Linked DNA regions of Homo sapiens: region 2 is linked to region 1. Evidence: fine-mapped expression QTL. Tissue or cell type: monocytes after LPS. Region 1 holds a variant in brackets; the other region holds the start of a gene. All regions are shown on one strand. Distances are from middle to middle.

Region 1 (7,933 bases):
CTTGTGCTAACTGGTAACTGAAGTGATGGGTGAGGACAGGAGACAGAGCCATTAATTCTGTCTGGACTAGTCAGATGGGGCCTTCCAGAGGAGGCAACCCTGAGTTGAATTTCTCCCAGTAATCTTTTTTTTTTCTTTTTCTTTTTTTTCTTTTTCTTTTTTTTTGCTTCCTCCTCCTCTTCCTCTCTCTCCCAGCAGATTTTTTTTTTTTAATTTAAATTTTTGAGAACAGGGTCCCACTATATTGCTCAGGCAGGTCTTGAACTCCTGGGCTCAAGCCATCCTCCTGCCTCTGCCTCCCAAAGAGCTGGGATTACAGGCGTGAGCCACCGCGCCCGACCTCTCCTAGTAACCCTAACCCTCACAAATAACCACCATTTTCTTCTAGAAGATGCCTGGGAATATACATGTGTGCGTGTGCAAGAGTTCTTGACAGCATATAGTTAGGAAAGGAATTGCTGAGTAGGGTGTGCTCCCCTTCAATTTTATCATATATTGTCTGGTTTTCAAAGTGGCGTAATGCATTGCCCTCCCATCAGGGATGTGTGAGACTTCCATTTGTTCTACTTTTTGCACAACACTTGATTAAACTTGGTTGGACTTTTAAATTGTTTCCAGTCTGGTGGGAGTGTAATGGTAGTTTTTTTGTGTATTTTCAAAAAAACCTTTTATTATGAGCTATTACCTACATATGGAAAAATGCATAAAACAAGGCCGGGAGCAGTGGCTCACGCCTGTAATGCCAGCTCTTAGGGAGGCTGAGGTGGGAGGATTGCTTGAACCCAGGAGTTTGAAATCAGCTGGGCGAGACCCTTCCTCTAACAAAAAAAAAAAAAAAGTGTATAAAACAATGCACTGTGTAACGAACCGTGAAGTAAACATCACCTGTATTAAGAACTAGAATAACCCTAGATGCTCTCTGTGTATCTTTTTCTAATCATAATCTCTTTACTGCCTCCCAGAGGTAACCATCATAAAAGTCAGGATAGTGGTTACTATATTGCTTAGTAGATACGCATACATAGATGATCAAATGTAAAGAAAAACAAGCCGGGTGCGGTGGCTCATGCCTATAATCCCAGCACTTTGGGAGGCTGAGGCAGATGGATCACGAGGTCAGGAGTTTGAGACCAGCCTGGCCAATATGGTGAAACCCCATCTCTACTAACAAATACAAAAATTAGCCGGGCGTGGTGGCACACACCTGTAGTCCCAGCTACTCAGGAGGCCAAAGCAGGAGAATTGCTTGAACCTGGGAGGTGGAGGCTGCAGTGAGCTGAGATTGTGCCACTGCATTCCACCTGGGCAACAGAGTGAGACTCTCTCTCAAAAAAAAAAAAAAGAAAAAAAAAAAACAAAGAACTAAGGATAGTGATTAATGTTTTTCTTTATATTCTATCATCTATGTATGCATAGCTAAGCAATATAATTTGTCCACTTATATAAAGCAATATGTTTAGTTATTTGTTCCCTCATATATACATTCTCTTTGCTTACTTTTGTGCTTTCTTTTTCTCATCCAACATGTTTGCAATATTTATCCATATTGTGTATAACTTTAATCTGTGCTCTTTCTTTTTCTTTTTTTTTTTGAGACAGACTCTCGCTCTGTTGCCCAGGCTGGAGTGCAGTGGTGTGATCTCGGCTCACTGCAACCTCTGCCTCCTGGGTTCACACCATTCTCTTGCCTCAGCCTCCCAAGTAGCTGGGATTACAGGTGCCCACGACCATGCCTGGCTAATTTTTTGTATTTTTAGCAGAGACAGGGTTTCACCGTGTTAGCCAGGACGGTCTCGATCTTCTGACCTCGTGATCCGCCCGCCTCGGCCTCCCAAAGTGCTGGGATTACAGACGTGAGCCACCACGCCAGGCCTAATCTGTGCTTTTAAAATGCTGTATAATGTTTCAGTATATGAATATACCACAGTTTTTAAAAATCCATTCAACTATTGATAACATTTGGAGTCTTTCCAGTTTTATGCTATTAAAACAATGTTGCTGCAAACATTCTTATGCATGTTCCTGATGTACTACATATGTGCACATTTTTCTGGGATATGAGTTAGATTGTTGGGGCATAGTTGTCTATTCTTGGGTAACAAATCACTCTGGAAGTAAATGGATTAAAACAACAATGATTTATCTCATGATTCTGCGGGTTGGCTGGAAAGCTCTTCTGCTGGGCTTGTATGGGTTCACTGACATGGCTGCATTTAGCTGGAGGGTTGGCTGGGGGCTGAGCCCAGCAGGGACGGCGCTGCTCACTGCTCTTCTTCTTCTTTTTTTTTTTTTTTTTTGAGACAGATCTTTGCTTTTGTCACCCAGGCTGGAGCGTAATGGTGCAATCTCGGCTCACTGCAACCTCCGCCTCCCGGGTTCAAGCGATTCTCCCGCCTCACCTTCCCGAGTAGCTGGGATTACAGGCACCCACCACCACACCCAGCTGATTTTTGTATTTTTAGTAGAGACGGGGTTTCACCATGTTCACCAGGATGGTTTCAAACTCCTGACCTCAAGTGATCCACCCACCTTGGCCTCCCAAAGTGCTGGGATTACAGGCGTGAGCCACCACACCCAGCCGGCACTGCTCTTCTTTAAGTGGTGGTGGCTGGGTTCACTCCTGTTTGTAGTCAGTTGGCTGGCCAGCAAGGGCTGCTCTCTTCCATGAGGCCTCTCCATGGGGCTAGTTTGGTCTTCTTCACATGGTAGCTCACAGAGCACAAAGGCAGACTCAGCAAAGTGTCTTGAAGCGAAGTATAGGACTGCTTCCATTGCTGCTACATTTCTTGGTTGAAGGAAGTAAAAAAGCTACCCCAGATTCCAAAGGTGAAAAATAGACTTTACCTCTTAATTGGAGGAGCTCCAAAATATTGTGGCTGTATTTATTCAATCTACCACATATATCTACAACTTCACAGATGATGCCAAATTACTTTCCATAGTATCTGTGCCAATTTATAATTGTATGTATATGAAATGTGTGTATGGAAGTTCTCATTACCTCACTCGTGCAAATACTTGTATTGTCATAGTTTAAAGCAAAATGTGTGGTCAAGTTCATTTTTGCCCATTTTAAAAAAAATATTGGATGATCTATCTTTTTCTATGGAGTTCTTTATATGTTCTGGATATGTAGTCATTTTCCAGTTGTATATATTAAAATTCTTTTCTCTCACCTGGTGGAGTGCATTGAACATCCCAGGTTCAAGCGATTCTCCTGCCTTAGCCTCCCGAGTAGCTGGGATTACAGGCATGTGCCACCACGCCTGGCTAATTTTGTATTTTTAGTAGAGACGGGGTTTCTCCATGTTGGTCAGGCTGGTCTCGAACTTTCGACCTCAGGTGATCCGCCCACCTCAGCCTCCCGAAGTGCTGAGATTACAGGCTTGAGCCACCACGCCCAGCCAACAAAGGTTTTTAAAGGAAAAAAATGAGGAGGATAACATAATTGTTTTGAAATAATTTTCCTTGACTACAGAGATCGATAACAAGGGTGACACCAGTCCAAGATTGGATAGGCGTTTGTTGGGCAGATGTTTCTGCAGGAATATTTTGTGTGTGTAAGGTTGCAGTGGCCTTTATGCGTGGTTATAGTTTTTGTAGTTGTTTTTCTAATCAGACATACAAGTGTGAGAACCCTCTCTTTATGGCCTTCCTTGACTCAATTTGCTAGGGCTTTCTTAACATTAGTGACTCCATTTTATTCTGATAACGTTCACATTTCCTCTTTTAATCAAGATCTTTCTCCAAAAGCATCACTGATCAATCATTCATATTTGGGTTTTCCTGTCCCTCAATGTCATGATGGGCCTGTCCCAGTTGCTGGTCTCATGTCACATTGAGGGGAATGATGGGTGACTTGGAGTCAGTGTCAAACTCTTGTAGCCACATTTGAGCAACAAGGGACATTTGAAGGGGGTATCTCTTAGGCTAAGTCTATCTGAGGTCCATTATGAAGTTCAATTTTGTCTGTTCCATAGTCTTTTGTTATCATCTCAAAGTGTTTGGCTGGGCCAGCATTATTTTGTTAGGAGTTGTACTTCTGTAAAAATTTAACAAGTGACAGATACAAAGTTTTAAAAAGGGCAAATATAAAGTAAAATTAATAGTAATATGATAATAGTTTTGTGCCCCAAACCTTATCA[C/T]TTGTATAAATCAAATGACTGAAGGGCGTTAGATGAGACCAGTTCTAATGGTGTGGCTTTTTTTCTTTTTTCTTTTTTCTTTTTTTTTTTTTGAGACAGTCTCACACTGTCACTCAGGCTGGAGTGCAGTGGCGTGATCTCAGCTCACTGCAACCTCTGCCTCCCGGGTTCAAACAATCCTCCTGCCTCAGCCTCCCAAGTAGCTGGGACTACAGGTGGGCGCCACCATGCCCAGCCAATTTTTGTATTCTTAGTAGAGACAGGGTTTCTACTAAACCCTATACTGGCCAGGCTGGTCTTGAACTCCTGGCCTCATGATCCGCCTGCCTTGGCTTCCCAAAGTGCTGGTATTACAGGCATGAGCCACCCTGCCCGGCCTACATACTTTTTAAAGTATTCTTGGTTGTCAGATTTTTTTTCAGCACTTTGAATATATCATCTTACTCTCTCCTGGACTGCAAGATTTCTGTTGAGAAATGTGTCGATACTTGTACTGGGGCTCCCTTATATGTGATATGCTTTTCTCTTTCTGCTTTCAGAATTCTTTGTCTTCAGTTTTAAATAATTTGTTTATAATATGTCTCAATGAACTCTTCTTTGGGTTGAATTTTATTAGAGACCTCTGAACTTCTTGTACCTGGATGTTTGTATCTTTCTCCAGATTAGGGAAGTATTCAGCTATTTTTAAAGATAAACTTTGTCCTTTTCTCTTCTCCTCTGTAAATCTTGTTATGTAAGTGTTCTCTTGATGGCCTCCCATAGATATTGTAGACTTTCTTTGGTTATCTTCATTTCTTTTTCTTTTTCTCCTCTGACTGGATGATTTAAAATGATGTCTTTGAATTTGCTTATTCTTTCTTCTGCTTTTCTAGTCAGCTGTTGAAGCCATCTATTGTATTTTTTGTTTATTGTTATTCTTCAGCTCAAAAATGTTTGTTTGGTTCTTTTTCATATTTTCAGTGCCTTTGTTTAGCCTCTTCTTTCGTTGTTCTATTGTTTTCCTGATTTTGTTAAATTGTTTTCTCTGTTCTTTTATAATTGACTGAGATTCTTTAGAACCATTATTGTGAATTCTTTGTCAGGCAATTAGTGGATCTGCTATTCTTTGGAGTCAGCTAATGGAAGTTTATTGTTTTCCTTTGGTGTTATCATGATTCTCCAATTCTTCATGATTTTTATAGTCTTGAGAAAAGCATTTGAAGAAGCATTAACTTCAAATGCTTTTTTTGGGGAGAAGAGTGGTGCTCTCTGGCACTGGGTCCAGTGGCACAGAGTGCCAACTGTGGGTGGGGGTGCGTGTGGTGGGTCCAGGTTGGAGGGACACAGAGTCTTGTTAGCACAGGCAGCTGGGGGCTGTGATGTTGATACCTGCATGGTCCTTGGTGGCAACAGCTGTGGGAGGTCCACAGTGGCTGTGAACCTCCCACAGAGTTTTCTGGGACCTCAGCTGTGCCTCTTGCCTAGCATCTAGGGGCCAGGACTCGCAGCAGTGGAGGCTGGGGTCAGTGGTGTGCACACACTCTGCTGCAGAGGCTGGCTGTAGGCACAAGCATGGCAGCAGAGGCTAGTTGCAGGCTCATTAATGGTGGCAAGGGGTGGAGTCAGAGGCAGGGGCTGGGGTTGACTAAGGGCATGCATGTGGCAGTGGGGCCTGACAGCTTGTGCCTAACTGCAGGGGCCTGCTGCAGTCTGGCCACAGAGGTCAGTCCATCTGCATGTACGTGGGCAGTTGCAGGGCTGAGCTGGAGGCGTGTGTGCACATGCAGCCGCGGGGCCTAGCTGAGGGTGCAAACGTGATGCTGGAGTTAGAACCTGGGGATGGGGAGGCATGGCTGTGTGCAGGCACATGCATGGTAGCTGTGCTGGGTCCTTGGCTCAGAGCACTTGTAGAGGCAGCAGCTGGGGTGACTCCATAGAGGAGGGGTATTGGCTTAGGCACCCAGAGAATGCGATGGCCACTGGGGTGAGTCCCTGGGTCTGGTCTGGGTGACCATGGTATTGAACAGCTTAGGTGGTTTCAGGGACAGAGGAAGGAGAAATTAGAGGGCCAGGCACCTGGAGACTGTGAAGGTGGAAAAAACTACAGGGCTTTTGCTGCTGCAGTGCTGGCAGTTGGTTTCCTCAGCTGTGAAAGCTGCTTGGTTCCTCTGCAGAAAATGGTGCTGGCATCAGCCATTGGTAACACCAAGGTGTCCTTGGTGGTGAAAACTGTGGGGAGCTGCACAGTGGCCAGGAGTGCTGTTGAGGTCCTCAGTACAGAAGTGTGCTAGAGACCCGTGTTGAGCAGGCCACTAGGGGGCGCTGTGGCTCCCACCAGCATGGCTGATACTGACAGCCTGTCCCACTTCTTGGTTCCCCATTATCTCCGTAAGTCTCGGCAATGCCAGTCCCCACGGAAATGTGAATGGAGTGAAACTGAAGCTGGTTGGGCAGTGTCCCAAAACACTAGGGAAGCTGGTGGTATAGCCTGCTCTCATTATCCCTGAAAGAGGGTTATGCGAGCCAGGGAATTCCCTCTCCATGCTGAGCAGTGCTGGCTCGGGGGATGGGGTGATGTGGGCAAAATGGAATTGTTCTTTCCACCCTTTCTGTATGGGTTTTTCTAGGGTTCTTTCTCCCACTAAAAGTCAGCTGAAGCCGACTTCTCAATTCTTCCAGAGTAATTTTTATTTTATTTTATTTATTTATTTATTTTTGAGATGGAGTCTCGCTGACTTCCAGGCTGGAGTGCAGTGGCCTGATCTCGGCTCACGCAACTTCCGCCTCCCGGAATCAAGCAATTCTCCTGTCTCAGCCTCCCAAGTAGATGGGATTACAGGAACGTGCCACCATGCCCAGCTAATTTTTGTATTTTTTGTAGAGACGGGGTTTCCCCACGTTGGCCAGGCTGGTCTCGAACTCCTGACCTCAAGTGATCCTCCCGCCTCAACCTCCCAAAGTGCTGGGATTACAGGCATGAGCCACCGCGCCCGGCCCAGAGTAATTGTTGTTCAAGGATAGTTGCCAAATTGTTGCTCTTTATAGAGAAAGGGAGGCTGGATCCCTTTCTCTGCCATCATGATAGGAAATAATTGGCTCTGTCTCCCATCTTACTTTGCTATTTGTTTCTCCTGGTCTGTATTTTGTTTTTTCTCTTTTCTTGCCTTCTTTTGGATTGACTTAGTAGTTATTTATCATTCCATTTTTTTTTTCCTCCACTAGTCTGGAAGTTATCCACTCTGTTTTCTGTTCTTTCAGTGATTTAGTGATTTCCCCAGAATTCACAATATGCATTCTTAATTTATCGATGTCTAAAGGTAATCAGTACTTCACTGTCTTTCAAGATAAGGGCTCCAAAACTCTTTATATCCATTTACATGCATTCCTAACTTACATTTGAATGTTATATCATGTTTTTGTTTTGTTTTGAGACGGAGTCTTACTTTGTCACCCAGGCTGGAGAGCAGTGGTGCAATCTCAGCTCACTGCATCCTTTGCCTCCTGGGTTCAAGTGATTCTCCTGCCTCAGCCTCTCGAGTAGCTGGGATTACAAGCATGCACCTCATGTATTTTTATTTCATATTATTTTGCTAAAATGCAAAGATATTATTGTTTTATTATATAGTTAATGTTCAATTAGATGTACTACTTCCTATTTATTGCTTTCTTTGATCTTTATTCTATCTTGCATCCTGGCCCTTCCATGAGGGATTTCCTTCTACTTGAATATCCTTTAAATTACTCTCTTTTTTTTTTTTTTTTTTTTTTGAGACAGAGTCTCACTCTGTCGCTGAGGCTAGAGTGCAGCA
Region 2 (6,045 bases), 190 kb after region 1:
CTCATGCTGCTCACCCTCAACGCTCTGCAGGGCCCAACACAGACAGCTGAGCCTGGGGCCCGCTGCCCTCGTCCAGCCCCCACTGGGAGATGGGACCCACTGCTAGTGAGCCTGGTGCCAGCCCTGAGATGTCAATGCCTCATGTCCTCCTCGTGGGAGTCATTAACTCCTGGTTCAGTGTCCTCCTCCAAAACCTCCCAGGATTCCCATGTCAGGGACAGCCCCGTGTTCCCTCAGTCCCTGGCCAAACGTCCAGACCCATCTTTGTGGCCTCCCTGCCCACAGCCCACTAATGTCCGCCCGCCTTGACTCCCTCTTTTTTGTCCCCACAGCCCTGGGCCAGCTCAGGCCTTGTCCTCTTTTCTCTGGACTCTTACCCCAGCCTCCTCCCTGGCCTGGCTTCTAATCTCTCCCCTCAGTTCATCTCCCATAGAGTCCCAGAGTGGTCCTTCTGCACCTGCAAGCTGAGTTTATCCCTGGCTCACCCCTCCCATAGCTCCCCAGCACCCATGGGACAAAGTCCCAGCTTCTCAGGCTGGCACTCAGGTCCTGTATGGCTGACCCCAGCCATCTCTCCAGTTATGCTTCCCTCAACTCTAACCACAGTGAGTTTTGTTTTTTTTTTTTTTTTTTGAGAGGGAGTCTCACTCTGTCACCCACGCTGGAGTGCAGTGGTGCTATCTCAGCTCACTGCAACCTCTGCCTCCCAGGTTCAAGCGATTCTCCTGCCTCACCCTCCCAAGTAGCTGGGATTACAGGTGCCTGCCACCACACCTGGCTAATTTTTGTATTTTTAGTAGAGATGGGATTTCACCATGTTGGCCAGGCTGGTCTTGAACTCCTGACCTCAAGTGATCCACGTGCCTCAGCCTCCCAAAGTGCTGGGATTACAGGTGTGAGCCACCGCACCCAGCCTAACCACAGTGATTTTAATTACCTGCATGCCCCAGACCTCCATCAGAACTAAGCCCTTTCTTTTCAGCTCAGAGGTATGCCAAGTCAGTATCCTTATCTACAGTACCCTCAGCAGGAACACCCTGTACCTTGTTTGCCTGGAGAACTCCTACTCATCCTTTAACACCCAACCCAAATGTTCCTTACTCTGCAAAACCTTCCTGTATCTATGCTGGCCTGGTGCCACATCTGGGCTGTCACAATACTTTGCACTTCCTCATTATTATGTCTCTGGATTAGGACTATTTCAGCCGGGGCCTACTGCCCTCCCCAGAGAGAGAAGGTTGAGTGTAGGGAGCTGAGGCCAACATCTCTCAGAGTCTGTAACATTGCCCAGCACAGGGCTAGCCATACAGACAACACTCAGTGTGTGTTGAGTGAATGTCAAAAGCAGGGGCTATGCTACGTTAGACAGACTGTGTCCCCCAGTCCTGCCTCAGCCCTCCACTCACCACACCGTTCACCGACAACAGTTGATCCCCACGCTTGAGGCCTCCATGGCGGTCAGCCACACCCCCTGGGATGACCCGGGAGATGTAGATGGGCGAGTTTTGCTCTTTGCCACCCATGATGTTGAAGCCTAGGCCCTCATCCGTCTTGGGTAGCTCCACTACCCTGGGATGTGCGTGGCCCTCGCTGGCTGTGAAGGCAGCCACTGTGGCCTGGGAGAGAGAAAGCGACTGAAGATGAGGGCCCCTTCCAGGTAGGCATGAAAGCTGGGGTGGGGGATGTGGACCGAGGACAGCGATTTAGCCTGGGTTACTATCCCCAAGCATGGGACACTTGTCATGGCACAATGCACGATCCCCCTGTAATGACTGTGCGTCTCTTTCTGTTCACTTGCAAGAGAAAGTGTCCATTTGGTGTGTGTCTTGAATACCCCATACTTGCCAATCTTACTTTTTTTTTTTTTTTGAGATGAAGTCTCACTCTGTTGCCCAGGCTGGAGTGCAATGGCATGATCTCGGCTCACTGCAACCTCGGCCTCCTGGGTTCAAGCGATTCTCCTGTCTCAGCCTCCGGAGTTGTAATCCAGCTGGGATTACAGGCACTCGCCACCACGCTCGGCTTTTTCTTTCTTTTTTTTTTTTTTTGTATTTCTGTGGAGACGGGGTTTCACCATGTTGGCCAGGCTGGTCTCGAACTCCTGACCTCAACTGATCCACCTGCCTCGGCCTCCCAAAGTGTTGGGATTACAGGCGTGAGCCACCGTGCCTGGCCTCAATCTTACTTTTAAACAGAGGAAAGCCAGGCCTGGAGGGAGATCTGAGCCTCCGGACAGCAGCAAGAGGTAGCAGCATCTAACTATTGTGCAGTGAGAGGTCAGAGCGCCATGAGTTTCCTGGTTTGCACTGTACAGATGTTGAAGGTTATCTTCTACCAACCATGCCATACTGTTTCCATTTGCAGTTGCTAAAGATGCCTTAGTATGACATTTAAGTTAAAAATGTGCGATTATTTACTAATAGTAAGGTGGCACATAGATTTAGCAAAAATCATGAGGGAGGAAACAGAAATGACTGGCATGAAGGAGATATTGAGTTCGACTAGGCAGTTAAATAGACACCAGGAGCAATGGGGTGCGGGGCCCACCTTGGCTGTGGCATGGGCTCGGATCTCGGCGCTGCCGGTGATGTCCAGCGTGTCATAAAGCTGCTCATACACCTGGGTGAGGAGGCAGCGGCATCAGGGAGTCGCCAGCTCCTCCAGCCCTAGACGCAGGAGTTCAGGCCTCTAGACCCTCTCCCGCTACCACGCAAGGATCCGCCCCGCCCCCGCAACAGAAGGCCGAGAAAACTACAACTCCCGAAGAACCCCTGAGCTGAAGCGTTGGCACCCCAAGGCGGGCCGCCTCGGGAGCTGCCGGGAGGCGTAGTCTCCGGGCTCGGGACAAGCAGGAGGAGGAGGAGGAGGACGACGGCCACCAGCTCGCGCCCCTGCGCCGCGCGCCCCTCACCTCTCGGATAGCGGAGCAGAAGCGGCTCTGCAGAACTCGCTGGAGGGCCTGCAGCTTCTGCGGCGGCAGCTCCCCGCTGCGCTGGAGCCGCTCGAGGAGCTCAACCGCCCGGGACACGTCTGCGGGGCGGGGGCGGGGCGCAGAAACCCCGAGTGTCAGAGACCCCGAGACGCAGAGAAGCAAGGAGAGCGGCGGAGTGAGGCCGAGCGCACAGTCCGGGGAGGACGGCCGAAGCCTAGTCGGACACCCCGCAGAGTCCAGGGTGGCGCAGGAGAGACTGCCACCAGCGGCCCTGCGGCCCCGGGACCCCTCCACAGGCCGGGTTGTAAGGCGGGCGCCCAGCGTCCCGGCCCGCGCCCAGGGAGCCTCCCACACCTAGCGACCGCCCGGCCCCGGCGCCCGCCCCGCCCACCCCCTCCGGGTCCGCTGGCCCACCCGCACTGGCCTGACCCGGGAAGGGCGGGGACCGGGGGCTGGGTATGTAGGCCGCGGCCCGGGTGGGCAGGGCCCCCTGGCGCACGCTTACCCCGCTCCAGCCCCAGCGGCTCCACCAGCGCAGCCATGTCGGCGCCACAGCTGCCAGCCGCCCGCCTGCCCTGGCGCCGGCGAGGAGGGCGGGGCTGCGCGAGGCCACGCCCCGGGCCACGGGCGCCCCCTGCGGAGGCGCAGCCTGGAGAGCGCCCAGCTCTCCCTCGCCCGACTGCTCCGACCACCTGCCGCGCGCCAGCCGCGCCCTGCCCTCCGCCCCGGCCAGTCGGTCCTGTTGGCGACCCCTCCCACTGCAGGTTCGGTCTGTGTGTACCTTTCAGGATCCGTGTCTGCCTGCCCTCCACACCCGTCTATCCCCTGTCCATCCTTTCCCCACATTCATTCAACAAACTCTTGTGAAACATCTGAGCCCAAGTCATGGACACCGTGGTGAGCAGGACAGCCAAGCCCACGGCCCGAACGAAGCTTCCAGTCTATAGGGGAGGTAGACGACCAACTACGGCTGTGATGAGAGCTGAGAGTGGGGAGGTGATGATCTAGAAAACGAAGGAAATCCTAGAGGAGGGACATTGACATACAGTCCTGGGAGGTAAGATGAACAAGAGGTGGAGCTTGGGTCACCCCCACCACCCAGAAAGAGCCCACGTGGCTGGAAGCAGAGTTAGGATTGGTTGATGATGAGGTGAAAAGGTCGGCAGGATAGTTTATGCCTGGGCTCCTGCGTTGGCATATGCGCCTTGAGGATTTGGGGCTTCATGCAAACTCCTAAGAGAAAAATATGACACTCAAATTTGTATTATTATTATATTATTATTATTATTATTTTTGAGACGGAGCCTCGCTCTGTCGCCCAGGTTGGGCCTCAAATTTGTATTTTAAGATCACTGGGGCCGGGCACGGTGGCTCACACCTGTAATCCTAGCGCTTTGGGAGGCTGCAGCAAGACTACTTGAGCCCAGGAGTTCAAGACCAGCATAGGCAATATAGTGAGACCTCGTATCTATTGAAAAAAAAAAAATCACTGTAGCCACTGTGGAGACTGGTTTGGACAAGAACAAGAGGAGAAGCAGCGGGGCAACTTACGAGGCTACCACAGCCATCCAGGTGGCAGCTAGCACCAGGGCCAAAGCACAGAAGATGGGTGGGCAGATGTGGGAAATGTCTAGACAAGCCTTGGTGCTTGGCTATATAAGGGGATTGGGAGGTGCAGGAGAAGACAGTATTAAGGTGCTTTGGTGCCATTTTTAAGATGGTCTACACTGAAAGAGGGATACTGGATATTTTGTTTTTGAGACACAGTCTTCCCTCTGTTGCCCAGTCTCGAGTGCAGTGGCGTGATCTCGGCTCATTGCAACCTCTGCCTCCCGGGTGCAAGCAATTCTCCTGCCTCAGCCTCCTGAGTAGCTGAGAGTACAGGTGTGCACCTCCACACCTGCCAAATTTTTGTATTTTTCATAGAGATGGGGTTTCACCATGATGGCCAGGCTGGTCTCGAACTCCTGACCTCAAGTGATCCACCTGCCTCAGCCTCCCAAAGTGCTGGGATTACAGGCGCGAGCCACCTTGCCTGGCCGATACTGGATATTTTGAATTTGAGGAGCCTATGCAGAATCCATGGGGAGAAACTATCGATCTAGGTCTAGGGCTCAAAAGAGCAACCTGGTCTGCAGGCATGTTTGAATATTGGGGCATAGGTGGTAAATAAAACCACCGGAGTGGATAAGAATGTCAGGGGCAAGCGAATATTAAGACGGCCTAGAACTGGTCCCCAGACCTCTCTAACACTTAAAAGTCAGGAGGACAGCAGAGAATGGCCTGAAATGTAGGCAGAAACCCAGGTGGGAGAAACCATGAGAAGAGGGGTTTTTAAATTTTATCTTCTTTTTTTGTTTGTTTTAGATGGAGGGGTCTTTGTTGCTCAGGCTGGTCTTGAACTCCTGGGCTCAAACAATCCCCCTGCCTTGGCCTCCCAAAGTGCTGAGTTTACAGGCACGAACCGCTGTGTCTGGCTGCGAGTGTTTTTAAAAAGAAGTGTGGCTGGGCATGGTGGCTCACGCCTGGAATCCCAGCACTTTGGGGGGCCGAGGCGGGTGGATCGCCTGAGGTCAGGAGACCAGCCTGACCACATGGAGAAACCCTGTCTGTACTAAAAATACAAAAGTAGCCAGGCATGGTGGTGCATGCCTGTAATCCCAACTACTGGGGAGGCTGAGGCAGGAGAACTGCTTGAACCCAAGAGGCGGAGGTTGCGGTGAGCGGAGATCATGCCATTGCATTCCAGCTTTGGGAAAAACAGCGAAACTCCGTCTCAAACAAACAAACAAACAAAAAAAGTGAGGCCAGGTGTGGTGGTCACGCCTGTAAGCATTTTGGGAGGCTGAGGCGGGCGGATCACCTGAGGTCAGGAGTTTGAGACCAGCCTGGCCAACTTCATGAAACCCCATCTCTCCTAAAAATACAAAAAATTAGCTGGGCGTGGTGGCGGGTGCCTGTAATCCCAGCTATTTGGGAGGCTGAGGCAGGAGAATAGCTTGAACCCAGGAGGTGGAGGTTGTAGTGAGCCGAGATCGTGCCATTACACTCCAGCCTGGGAAATAAGAGCGAAACTCCATCTTGGAAAATTAAATAAATAAATAAAAAATAAA

Which allele goes with the higher level. Alleles are on the strand shown, and positions count from the first base shown. SD is a standard deviation of normalised expression in the study named.
For the expression in monocytes after LPS of the gene that starts at base 3,509 in region 2, allele T in region 1 goes with a lower level than allele C (large effect, 1.7 SD a copy in Fairfax 2014).

Evidence for each region. PIP is the estimated chance that this variant, and not a neighbour inherited with it, causes the effect.
Region 2: LIN7B starts here. The variant in region 1 is fine-mapped to the expression of LIN7B in monocytes after LPS (Fairfax 2014, PIP 0.95).

Annotation. Positions count from the first base shown.
Region 1 is chr19:49,299,957-49,307,889 of GRCh38, reverse strand. The region is part of intron 7 of SLC6A16 (solute carrier family 6 member 16); the gene reads left to right. Among named protein-coding and RNA genes, the nearest start is that of MIR4324, 4.9 kb to the left of the region's middle. RefSeq lists an enhancer at 6,257-6,336. The variant C/T (reference allele first, on the strand shown) is at 4,146.
Region 2 is chr19:49,111,834-49,117,878 of GRCh38, reverse strand. It overlaps LIN7B (lin-7 cell polarity scaffold B), which reads right to left and starts at 3,509. Exons shown (of 6, transcript NM_022165.3): 1 at 3,438-3,509; 2 at 2,912-3,030; 3 at 2,548-2,619; 4 at 1,407-1,616; 5 at 1-24. The coding sequence starts at 3,474. RefSeq lists a silencer at 3,110-3,689.